Homo sapiens: one gene and its partner. The protein of the gene in region 2 purifies or fractionates together with the protein of the main gene of each other region. This does not show direct contact. Each region holds a gene or a part of one and is shown on either strand. Other genes may lie near its edges.

Evidence for each region.
Region 1: the proteins of ORC4 (region 2) and LACC1 purify together in Homo sapiens (affinity purification with mass spectrometry; 3 studies listed by BioGRID and IntAct, with this or other methods). This does not show direct contact.

Annotation. Positions count from the first base shown.
Region 1 is NC_000013.11:43,882,866-43,890,176, reverse strand, and holds part of LACC1 (purine nucleoside phosphorylase LACC1), read right to left. Parts: intron 6,407-7,311; coding exon 6,241-6,406; intron 5,259-6,240; coding exon of another isoform or gene 5,209-5,258; exon of another isoform or gene 3,387-5,208; intron 1,421-3,386; coding exon 1,195-1,420; intron 64-1,194; coding exon 1-63. UniProt on the Homo sapiens protein: Purine nucleoside enzyme that catalyzes the phosphorolysis of adenosine, guanosine and inosine nucleosides, yielding D-ribose 1-phosphate and the respective free bases, adenine, guanine and hypoxanthine.
Region 2 is NC_000002.12:147,929,860-147,934,012, forward strand, and holds the end of ORC4 (origin recognition complex subunit 4), read right to left. Parts: 3' UTR 537-4,153; downstream 1-536. UniProt on the Homo sapiens protein: Component of the origin recognition complex (ORC) that binds origins of replication. DNA-binding is ATP-dependent. The specific DNA sequences that define origins of replication have not been identified yet.

The DNA of each region.
Region 1 (7,311 bases), on a different chromosome or scaffold from region 2:
TTGAGATCTTGGTTCTGGTCCTGAATATTCTGTGGAAGAATTCCTCCCTGTTCTAGAAGAATCCTTAGGAAAAATATTTTTCAAAAGAGAGCAAGAGTTTATTTTCCCAATAGCCAAAGCAATATGAAAAAAAGTATGGATGTTGGCATGAAAAAGTTCCAGGAAAGATGTACCTAGAACAATGTATATTGTTATTCACTTACAGAACATGGACTAGTCAGGGAAAAAAATGCTACACTTTATCAGCATTTATCACCTAAGTTCATATATGCACAGTACAACCTTCCATATTGTCTTATAGACATAATCTAGGTACAGAATTTTATAATCAAAATCAAGTGCTTATTTAAGAAGAAATGTCTACAAAAGTTACCAGGATATCAGGCAAAATTCACCTGGCTCAGCCAGAGTATGCTTTTTAGTCATCTGGCCCTTCATCTCCTTTCCTTCTATTAGCCAGATTTTTCTCAGAAAACTTGCTTCTCCATGAACACTTTATGATATGAAATATGACTACAAGTTAGTGATACTTGATTTTAAAAGTCACATTTAAGAATCAATTTCAAACTTTTCCACATCTGTACTAAATGAGGCAGACTCTGGGTAAAGTTTTGGCGACTGGAATAGAAACATGATTTAAAACATACATTAATTTGCCTTTGTAGTAATGACAAATAATTTTCACCAGTTATTAATAACAAAACCTTGTAAATTAAAAGATGCGAAGAACTGTAAAAAACTTAAAAGTAAAAAACCGTGTATTTATATTATCTAATATTTTTTCTAAAAAACATATTCCTCTAGTTAATTAGATAATAAGAATAATTTTAAAATATCAGCTTCCTGATAGTTCATTACATTTAGGAGAATTTAGCTGAGGAATGGCTGTGAAGTAAAGTACACGCCAACTTTTCTATATGAAGTTTAAGTAGATCTCTTAAAATTAAATGCCAAATATTTCTTCCTTCACTTTTAAATCAATGAAAGATACCAGACAGGAAAATTTCTGTTATTCAAACTCAAATGAAAACAGATTTCATATTTAAAATGAGTGTTTGTGTACATGTGCATGTCAGCTGCTTAAATAACCACCACCTAAATTCTTCTTAGAGTTATTAATTGTTCTCCAAAATAAATTTCATTTTAGAACAATCAGAAATAATCAAACTTGCAGTTGAATGAAATCAGACATACCTTGTGGCTTTACGGATGTCGATACAGGGATTTGGTGAATCAAATAGTTGTACACATGCAGGATGAAGATTATGAAATGCCTCTGCTGATTCCCTTGGAAGAGTAAAACAGCAAGGTCCTACTGAAGGTCCAAGTACAACAACAATGTCTTCCAAACTGCAGCCATATTCTGCTATCATAGCATTCACTGTAGCCATAGCAACACCCAACAAAGTACCTTTCCAACCTGGTAAATAGGAATAAAAAGAGATAAGAGAAGTCAAAACATAAAAAATTTCACCTGAATTTATGTCTAAGTTAAAAGTGAGCAGATTTAGTTTGTATATTTTTCAAAGTCCAGAAATAATAAATTACATTATCATGTGGTTTTTAAATGAGCCATACTACACAAAGCACCTGACACAGAAGAGACATGTAATGGGAGTTTTCTTCATCTTCCATTTAAAGATGCTCTATACTTTTAGTTTCCACTGAGATCATAGCTTCTTAGTCTTCTATTTTTCACATTTTAAAAGATTGTGGTTAAAAACCCACAAAATTTACTATTATAACCACAAAAAAATACTATTCTAAGTATACAGTTCAGTAGTGTTGAACTCACATTGTTGTATAACCAATCTCCAGAATTTTTTCATTTGATAAAATGGAAACTCTACAACTATTAACAATAACTCCTTGTTTCTTCCTTTTACCAGCCCCTGGCAATCACCATTCTTCTTCCAGTTCCTGTACATTTGATTACTGTAGGTATATCATATAAGTGAAATCAATACAGTATTTATCTTTTTGTGACTGACTGATTTCACTTAGCATAATGTCCTTAAGGTTCATCTATATTGTAGTATGTGTCAGAATATCCTGCCTTTTTAAAGCTAAATAATATTCCATTGTATGCACACACATTTTGCTTATCCATTCATCTACCAATGTACCTTAGATTGCTTTCACCTTTTGGCTATTGCGAATAATCGTGTTATCAACATTGGTGTGCAAATATCTCTTTGAGTTCCTGATTTCAGTTATTTTGGATATACTTCCAGAAGAGGAATTTCTGGATTATATGGTAATCTATTTATAATTTTTTGAGAAATTGCCATACTGTTTTCTATAGTGGCTACACAATTTCACATTCCCACCACCAGTGCACCAGGATTTCAACTTCTCCATATCCTCAACAACACTTATTTTCTGAGGTTTTAAAATATTAGCCATCCTAATGGATGTGGGGTGATATTTCACTGTGGTTTTGATTTGCGTTTCTCTAACTTCTAATCCATGAACACAGAATTTCTCTGCATTTATTTGTGTCTTCTTTAATGTCCTTCAGCAATGTTTTGCAGTTTTCATCTCTCCCTTTTTACAAAAATATATCTATTATATTTCAATTAACAGCCTCTTTTTACTCCCTTCCCACTTGCCCAGACTATCGTTCCCTTGCCATCTTTGTCTTATCTGCCTTGCATCTTACAGTGTTCTAAGATAAAACCATCTTCTTTACTTATGCTACCTTCTTGTTGCCAAAGACAGAAAGCTAAGAATATTGCATTTTTCCTTTATTCCCTATATCTGGGTTTGATTCAGCTGATATGGTTGGCCAATAATGAGTACCCTTACACCTTCCTTAAGCACTCCATACTCATACCCTTCAAAAGGTAGGCACTCAGGTGAAGGGATCAATTTTTACAGATAAAAGGAGATGATGAAAGCAAGAAGGACTTAGGTGACAGGTTCAGCCTCTACAGGTAACCCACTGAATATGTGGTTATGGGAAGTACAGAATGAAGACATCAAGTTTCTATCTGTAAGTGGGTAGGATATCAATAATTAAAACAGGAAACCTAACTGGCAGAGAAGACTTTAGGAAAAAAATGTTGAGTTTTTGACATAATGATTTTCAGGCACCTAGGAAGATGCAGACAGTGATGTTCAAAGGGAAGCAACTAGATATAGGCATTTTGAGTTAAAGAGAGAAACTGTCAGGGCTTTTCTACAGATGAGAGTAGCTCTCTTCCTCAGTGAGCCTCCTTAGTTATCCTCTCACTTGTAGTTCATCCACCTCCTTTCTATTTGATTTTTCTATGCCTATCTATATATACATATCTAGTTAAAAGATCTTTATTAAATTAGTCCCATAGAAGAATTTTATTCTTTTTGATATCTGATAAAAGTAGTATACAATGTAGCTAATTATATTATATTTTAAAGTTAATTTATTTTTATTCTTCCAACTTTTTAGGTTCGGGGTACATATATGCAGGTTTGTTACATGGGTAAATTGCATGTCACTGGGGTTTCGTGTACAAACGATTTCATCACCCAAGTAGTGGACATAGTACCGAACAGACAGTTCTTCAGTCGTCACCCTCCTCCCACCCACCACCCTTAAGTAAGCCCCCATGTCCATTGTCCCTTTTTTTGTGTCCATGTGTACTCAATGTGTAGCTCCCACTTAAAGGATACATATGGTATCTGATTTTCTGTTCCTGCATTAATTCATTTAGGATGGCTTCCAGCTGCATCTATGTTGCTGTAAGGATATGATTTCATTCTTTTTTATGGCTTTATAGTATTCCATTATGTATATGTACCATATTTTCTTTATCCAGTCCACCACTGATGGGCATCTAAGTTGATTCCATGTCTTCATTATTGTGAAAAGTGCTGTGATGAACATACGTGTGCATGTGTCTTTATGGCAGAATAATTTATATTCCTTTGGGTATATACCCAGTAATGGGATTGCTGGGTTGAATGGTAGTTCTAATTTTAAGTTCTTTGAGAAATATACAAACTGCTTTCCACAGTGGCTGAACTAATTTACATTCCCACTAGCAGTGTGTAAGCATTTCCTTTTCTCCACAATCTCACCAACATCTGTTGTTTTTTGACTTTTTTTATAACAGCCATTCTGACTGGTATGAAATGGTATCTCATTGTAGTTGTGATTTGCATTTCTCTAATGATTAGTAATATCAAGCGTTTTTTCATATGCTTGTTGACCACGTGTAAGTCTTCTTTTGAGAAGCGTTTGTTCATGTCCTTTGCCCATTTTTTAATGGGATTGATTGTTATTTGTTTGTTGATTTAAGTTCCTTATAGAGTCTCGGTGTTAGACCTTTTCAGCTGCATAGTTTGCAAATATTTTCTCCAATTCTGTAGGTTTTCTGTTTACTCTGTTGATAGTTTCTTTTGCTGTGCAGAAGCTCCTTAGTTTAATTGGGTCCCACTTGACTATTTTTGTTTTTGTTTGCTCTTGAAGTCTTCACCATGAAATCTTTGCCAAGGCCTATGCCTATGTCCAGAATGGCATTTCCTAGGTTTCCTCCTAGGGTTTTAATAGTTTTAGGCTATATGTTTAAGTCTTTAACCCATGTTGAGTTAGTTTTTGTATATGGTGAAAGGAAGGGATCTAGTATCAATTTCCTACATATGGCTAGCCAGTTATGCCAGCACCATTTATGGAACAGGGATTCCTTTCCTCATTGCTTGTTATTGTCGACTTTGTCAAAGATCAGATGGTTGTAGGTGTGTGGCTTTATTTCTAGGTTCTCTATCCTGTTCTATTGGCCTATGTGTCAGTTTTGGTACCAGTACCATGCTGTTTTGGTAACTGTAACTTTGGAGTACAGCTTGAAGGGAGGCAATATGACTCCTCCAGCTTTATTCTTTTTGCTTAGGATAGCTTTGGCTATTTGGGCTCTTTTTTGGTTCCATGTGAATTTTAAAATAGTTTTTTCTAAATCTGTGAAAAATGACATTGGTAGTTTGATAGGAGTAGCATTGAATCTATAAATTGCTTTGGGCAGTGTGGCCATTTTAACAATATTGATTCTTCCTATCCATGAGCATGGAATGTTTTTCCATTTGTTTATATTATCTCTGCTTTCTTTCAGCAGTGTTTTGTACTTCTCATTGTAGAGACCTTTAATCTCCTTGGTTAAGGTAACTGTATTCCTAGGTATTTTATTCTTTCAAAATTAACTTATTAATGACTTGAAATTCACATTTATAACTTCATTTTGACTGCTTGATCTTGGATATGTTTAAACTAAATGTTTTCGAACCTAAGAAGTAAAAAAATAATATCCTCTTTTTATATCCAGGAGCCAAGACTCAAATTTTAAATAACTTTTTGACAATGTCATGTAGTAAACCTGACTTCTACTCATTCAATCCCATTATTTCAGCTAGGTCAAAATAAAAATATGCTACTTTCTTTTTTACCTATGAGCTAAAAAGCAAAGTAGCCATAGATTTACAAGTAGAAGGAAATTTTAAAGATCATCCCTCATTTCACACAAAATCACAGCTATGGGGTAATCTAAAATACTATTTTAAAATACCTTCAGAAAACAAAATTCCATATCCTTAACACAATATACCTTCTAAAAATACTTCTTTGCTCTCAGAGAATAGTTACAGTTAAATACATTAAGTGATGTAAACTAAAAACAGTTTTCAAAACATCTTGCTTTTTCCTACCTCCCTAGCTTTACACATGCAGCTCCATCTGGGTGAACACTTCTCTGCAACATGCCTAACATTCCTATTTCCTATGGCCTGGATTTCAAGGATTCTCAACCAGAGGCAGTACCACTCCCCTAGGGAGTGTTTTGAAAAGCTTGGAGGGTTTCGTTGTTGTTTGATTGGTTGGTTGGTTGGTCTTGGTTATTACAGTAACTAGAGGTGCTACTGTCATTAAGGATTTCAGGGGCTAAAGACACTTAATCTGCAATGTGGGATTATCCTGCCCAAAATGTTAATAGCACCCTTGCTAAGGAACACTGTTACCCAGCCAAAACCAACAAATTCCTCAGGAATCAACCTAGGTGCCACCTCCTTTGGGAATTCTACTATAATTCATATAATTTGATGCAGATACTCCTCTTAGCTGTCCCTATAATAAAACTATGCCGCCTCTCCCATCATTACACTTACCACAGTGTAATGTAATTAACTGTTTGCCATGTCCATCAGAAAGAAATTACAATTTTTCCTGCACAACAAAATGAGTAAAATTCTAAATGTTTAATTAAGTATACTTACCAGCGTGAGCAACCCCACATGCTTTTTTGACTGGATCTGCAAAAACTATCGGTATACAGTCTGCACCAAGAGCTGCTATTGTGACTCCTCTCTGATTTGTGGTTATTCCATCATAAGAGTCAGGCTCCTTTCTTCCCATAATCCAGATGTCATTGGAATGATGAGTCTAATACCAAAAATGTGCAACAAAAATGTTTTGGAAATAGTATTTCTTATACCATAAGCTTTCTCGAAGGTACTCATTGTAGTATAAAATTATATAACCAGTTTAAGATTACTAGCATTCATTAAATATATCACTTTTATATATGGGAAAACACAAAATTTACTTATAATTTAACTATTTAAGATTTTAGATTATAATCTCTGATAGTTTATGCAAAGAAAAGCAGAGTTTAACATTATAAAATTCAATATAGTGAATAATGAACATCTTTCCATAAAGATAGGTATATCATTTCTTATAGCACTTTCTACAAAATGAAAATTTTTCTTGTAAAGGAAAGTTAATTAACAAATCAATGATACTTTTACTTTTCCAAGACTCAAGTAAAGCTAGAATTCTGTAAGGAACAAGACATTATCTCATCAACTATGACCCTAGTTCCTCCTGGAGTAGATTTATAAAATAATGGCCTTTCTCTACCACCATTCAGTTCCCTTTCTTCTAAATCAAAAAGAGCAGTGGTAGTATACTCTCTGAGAATTAACTGTACTTTTAGAATTGAGGACTCCAGATGAAATATACAGTAGGCTCTTGAATAATGTCATTTTATTCCACATCATTTCATTATAATGTTAATGAAAAAAATTGATTACCCACCCGGTCACTGACTGTGTGAGGTTTGCACCTTCTCCTCACGTCCACATGGGTTTTCTCTGGGTACTCCAGCTTCCTCCCACATCCCAAAGAAGTGCATGTTAGATGAATTGGGGTGTCTACATGGTCCCAGCATGAGTACGTGTGTGTGTGTGTAAGGGCACCCTGCAATGGAATGGTGTCCTGTCGAGGGTGGGTTGTGGCCTTGCATCCTGATCTGCCAGAATAGACTCCAGCTACCTAAAGCCCTG
Region 2 (4,153 bases):
CCCATCAGAACTGCTGCTGCTCTAACTTATACTCTTTACCTTGCCCAGATCTCCGCGTAAGGAATGCTTTATGATCAACTTGCCATAGGACTGATGGATTAACCAGTGTTCGGCTTTATTTGAAGTCTATGCCCTGCACAGCTCTTGTATGTATTTTAGATGCTAGAAGTTTTTTTAGCATGTGATGTGTGATTCTTGTTTGAATTCTAGGTACCTTGTGAATTCCAGAAAAAGAGACTGTGCTTCACGATTGTTAGTCCCATGAACTTGCACTATCTATCTTTCATGGTGATGTTTTGAAAATACAATCAGGAAAAAACCCAACACCTTTGGAATTTAAAATAGAATCATATCATGAAATTTAAAAAGAATCTCTTCTGTTGCATTTCCTCACCCCTAAGTAACAGCTACATTTAAGTAAAATGCAGGTGGTAGGGGAAAAAAAACCATGGCGAGATGGTGGTTTAGTGGAATAAACTGATTACTGGTTTTTTTGTTTTTTTTTTTTTTTTTAAAGAAAGAAGCTTCATCACAGATACTTTCCAGTTTCTCTTTTATACTTTTTTGAAAGATTACTTTTTAGGAACATTTGGTATGATATGCATAAAATTATTTATCCATTTATGGGCAAAATGATACAAGTAGCATCTTGATTGAACATCATTTACCTCAGATATTCAACCAGCAGTACGTTTTTTATGCAGTCTCAACCCATATCCCATTTGTTACCTCTCAGAATATTGGTAAGCAGTTATTTTCGCTTTACTCTGTATTTCTTGTGTTTTGGGCACAGGTTATTGTACTACTGTCAAATCGTACTTGCTATTTTTTCTGCAAGTATTTAACAGAAAGCTTAAAATCCCCATAAAACCCCACCTTGGATAAGTGATTGTTAAATATTGTACAAATAAAATGTATGCTATCCCCATTCCATCCCCAAGTTAAATAAAAAAATGAATACGGTATGATTTGCATATGCAGTTTTTCTTTAGCTATGTTTTTTTTTTTTTTTATACTTTAAGTTTTAGGGTACATGTGCACATTGTGCAGGTTAGTTACATAGGTATACATGTGCCATGCTGGTGCGCTGCACCCACTAACTCGTCATCTAGCATTAGGTATATCTCCTAATGCTATCCCTCCCCCATCCCCCCACCCCACAACAGTCCCCAGAGTGTGATATTCCCCTTCCTGTGTCCATGTGATCTCATTGTTCAATTCCCACCTATGAGTGAGAATATGCGGTGTTTGGTTTTTTGTTCTTGTGATAGTTTACTGAGAATGATGATTTCCAATTTCATCCATGTCCCTACAAAGGACATGAACTCATCATTTTTTATGGCTGCATAGTATTCCATGGTGTATATGTGCCACGTTTTCTTAATCCAGTCTATCATTGTTGGACATTTGGGTTGGTTCCAAGTCTTTGCTATTGTGAATAATGCCACAATAAACATACGTGTGCATGTGTCTTTATAGCAGCATGATTTATAGTCCTTTGGGTATATACCCAGTAATGGGATGGCTGGGTCAAATGGTGTTTCCAGTTCTAGATCCCTGAGGAATCGCCACACTGACTTCCACAATGGTTGAACTAGTTTACAGTCCCACCAACAGTGTGAAAGTGTTCCTATTTCTCCACATCCTCTCCAGCACCTGTTGTTTCCTGACTTTTTAATGATTGCCATTCTAACTGGATAAAATACTGGCAAAACGAATCCAGCAGCACATCAAAAAGCTTATCCACCATGATCAAGTGGGCTTCATCCCTGGGATGCAAGGCTGGTTCAATATACGCAAATCAATGAATGTAATCCAGCATATAAACAGAGCCAAAGACAAAAAACACATGATTATCTCAATAGATGCAGAAAAAGCCTTTGACAAAATTCAACAACCCTTCATGCTAAAAACTCTCAATAAATTAGGGATTGATGGGGTGTATTTCAAAATAATAAGAGCTATCTATGACAAACCCACAGCCAATATCATACTGAATGGGCAAAAACTGGAAGCATTCCCTTTGAAAACTGGCACAAGACAGGGATGCCCTCTCTCACCACTCGTATTCAACATAGTGTTGGAAGTTCTGGCCAGGGCAATTAGGCAGGAGAAGGAAATAAAGGGTATTCAATTAGGAAAAGAGGAAGTCAAATTGTCCGTTTGCAGACGACATGATTGTATATCTAGAAAACCCCATCGTCTCAGCCCAAAATCTCCTTAAGCTGATAAGCAACTTCAGCAAAGTCTCAGGATACAAAATCAATGTACAAAAATCACAAGCATTCTTATACACCAACAACAGACAAACAGAGAGCCAAATCATGAGTGAACTCCCATTCACAATTGCTTCAAAGAGAATAAAATACCTAGGAATCCAACTTACAAGGGATGTGAAGGACCTCTTCAAGGAGAACTACAAGCTACTGCTCAAGGAAATAAAAGAGGATACAAACAAATGGAAGAACATTCCATGCTCTTGGGTAGGAAGAATCAATATTGTGAAAATGGCCATACTGCCCAAGGTAATTTACAGATTCAATGCCATCCCCATCAAGCTACCAATGACTTTCTTCACAGAATTGGAAAAAACTACTTAAGTTCATATGGAACCAAAAAAGAGCCCACATCGCCAAGGCAATCCTAAGCTATGTGTTCTTAAAGAGGGGAGTGGTAGCTTTGTAACTTACAGTGAGGCTTACACCTTGACAACTGCAAGAATGAGGATAGTGGTGAGTGAAGGGAGATTTGTTAATTATGGCATTTCCCTCTATTATCGTCTAAACAGATTATATTCCCACTAAAGTATGTGTGTTGGTCCTGCCAGTATTAGAAACCAGAGGCTTGTTGGCATTGTGTCACACAGTACACACCAATGGATTCTCAGATTTTCTAGGGTAAAGGTGAAGGATGGGGCAGCACTTAGGTTATGGTGGTTTGAAAGAAACTGAATTGCTTTCTAAACCAGATGAGGATCAGAGTGCGAACCATGGTGAAATATGCATGGAAACTACAGAAAGACTGAAGTGTTTCTTACGGTGTTTTCTGCAAAACGTGATTCATTAGGACATTAACAGGTATTACGTTTTCAACATATACAGCATTATGATACAGTAAGTTTGGACCAAACAGGTATTCATTCCCCAGAGCCTTTCACATGCACGAGAATCAGTCATTTTAACAAGAATTCCGTTTCTGCTGGGCCACTTGGATCCCTTGGATTCAGATGTAAAAACACACTGAAATATTCCTCCTTTCACCTGCTTTTCAGTTTGAGGTAATCAGATTGAAAAGCAGGAGTTCATGCATTTTTTGGTTCTATTTTTCCTCCTCTAGTAAATGAAGAAAATAAGCTATATGTATAAGTTTACATTATTCTTGAACCGCTTTTTAAACTAGGGTTTTTCATATTTGTTTTTATTGATGACAATTAAAGCAATTTAAGAGACGAAGTTAGCTCAAAACTCTTGCGAATAGATTTTAGCATTTTTGTATGAGGGAATATGGAAAGGCCAACAAGCAGCACTGTTCCTCCCCACAAAAATGCCTTGGGAATATAATAGGCGTACACTTCATTTGTGTAACTTTTCCTAATGTATTTTTTTTTAATTTGCTTTATAACGGTTTCATGTTTACCTCAATTGGTACTTAGTCTTAAAATCTTTCTTTATACTTGGTTATTGATGGATCTTCTGCAGCTCTTATGTAGCCAATGAGACAGATGAGGGCTGTCAGCTTTTAAGTGACATCTTAAGCTAATAAGAAATTGGAATCCTCAAGTCATTTCATGAGGCTGTTACCCTTTAAGACAAATAATACTTTCCTCAAATAGTTCAGAAAATTTTTAAAAGGATCACTTAGAGCATAAGTGTAAAATTCTTGCTTCTAGTATATAATAGTGATGTTACCATGTCAAGTATTTTGGTGAAATATCCCCTAAAAATGTGTAGACTACGGCACAGATTGAGTATGCAAGCCTTAGCTTGAATGAGACTGCTGAGAAGTAAATGACAGGGATCTGAATACTTAGCAGGCTTAACTTTTTGCAGGGAAGGAAAGGCTATGTATGCAAAAGAATAGGTTGTAACTACTGAAGAGCTACTTTATGCTCAGAAACCTTTTATTCCACTTTGTATCCAAGATTTCATTAAAA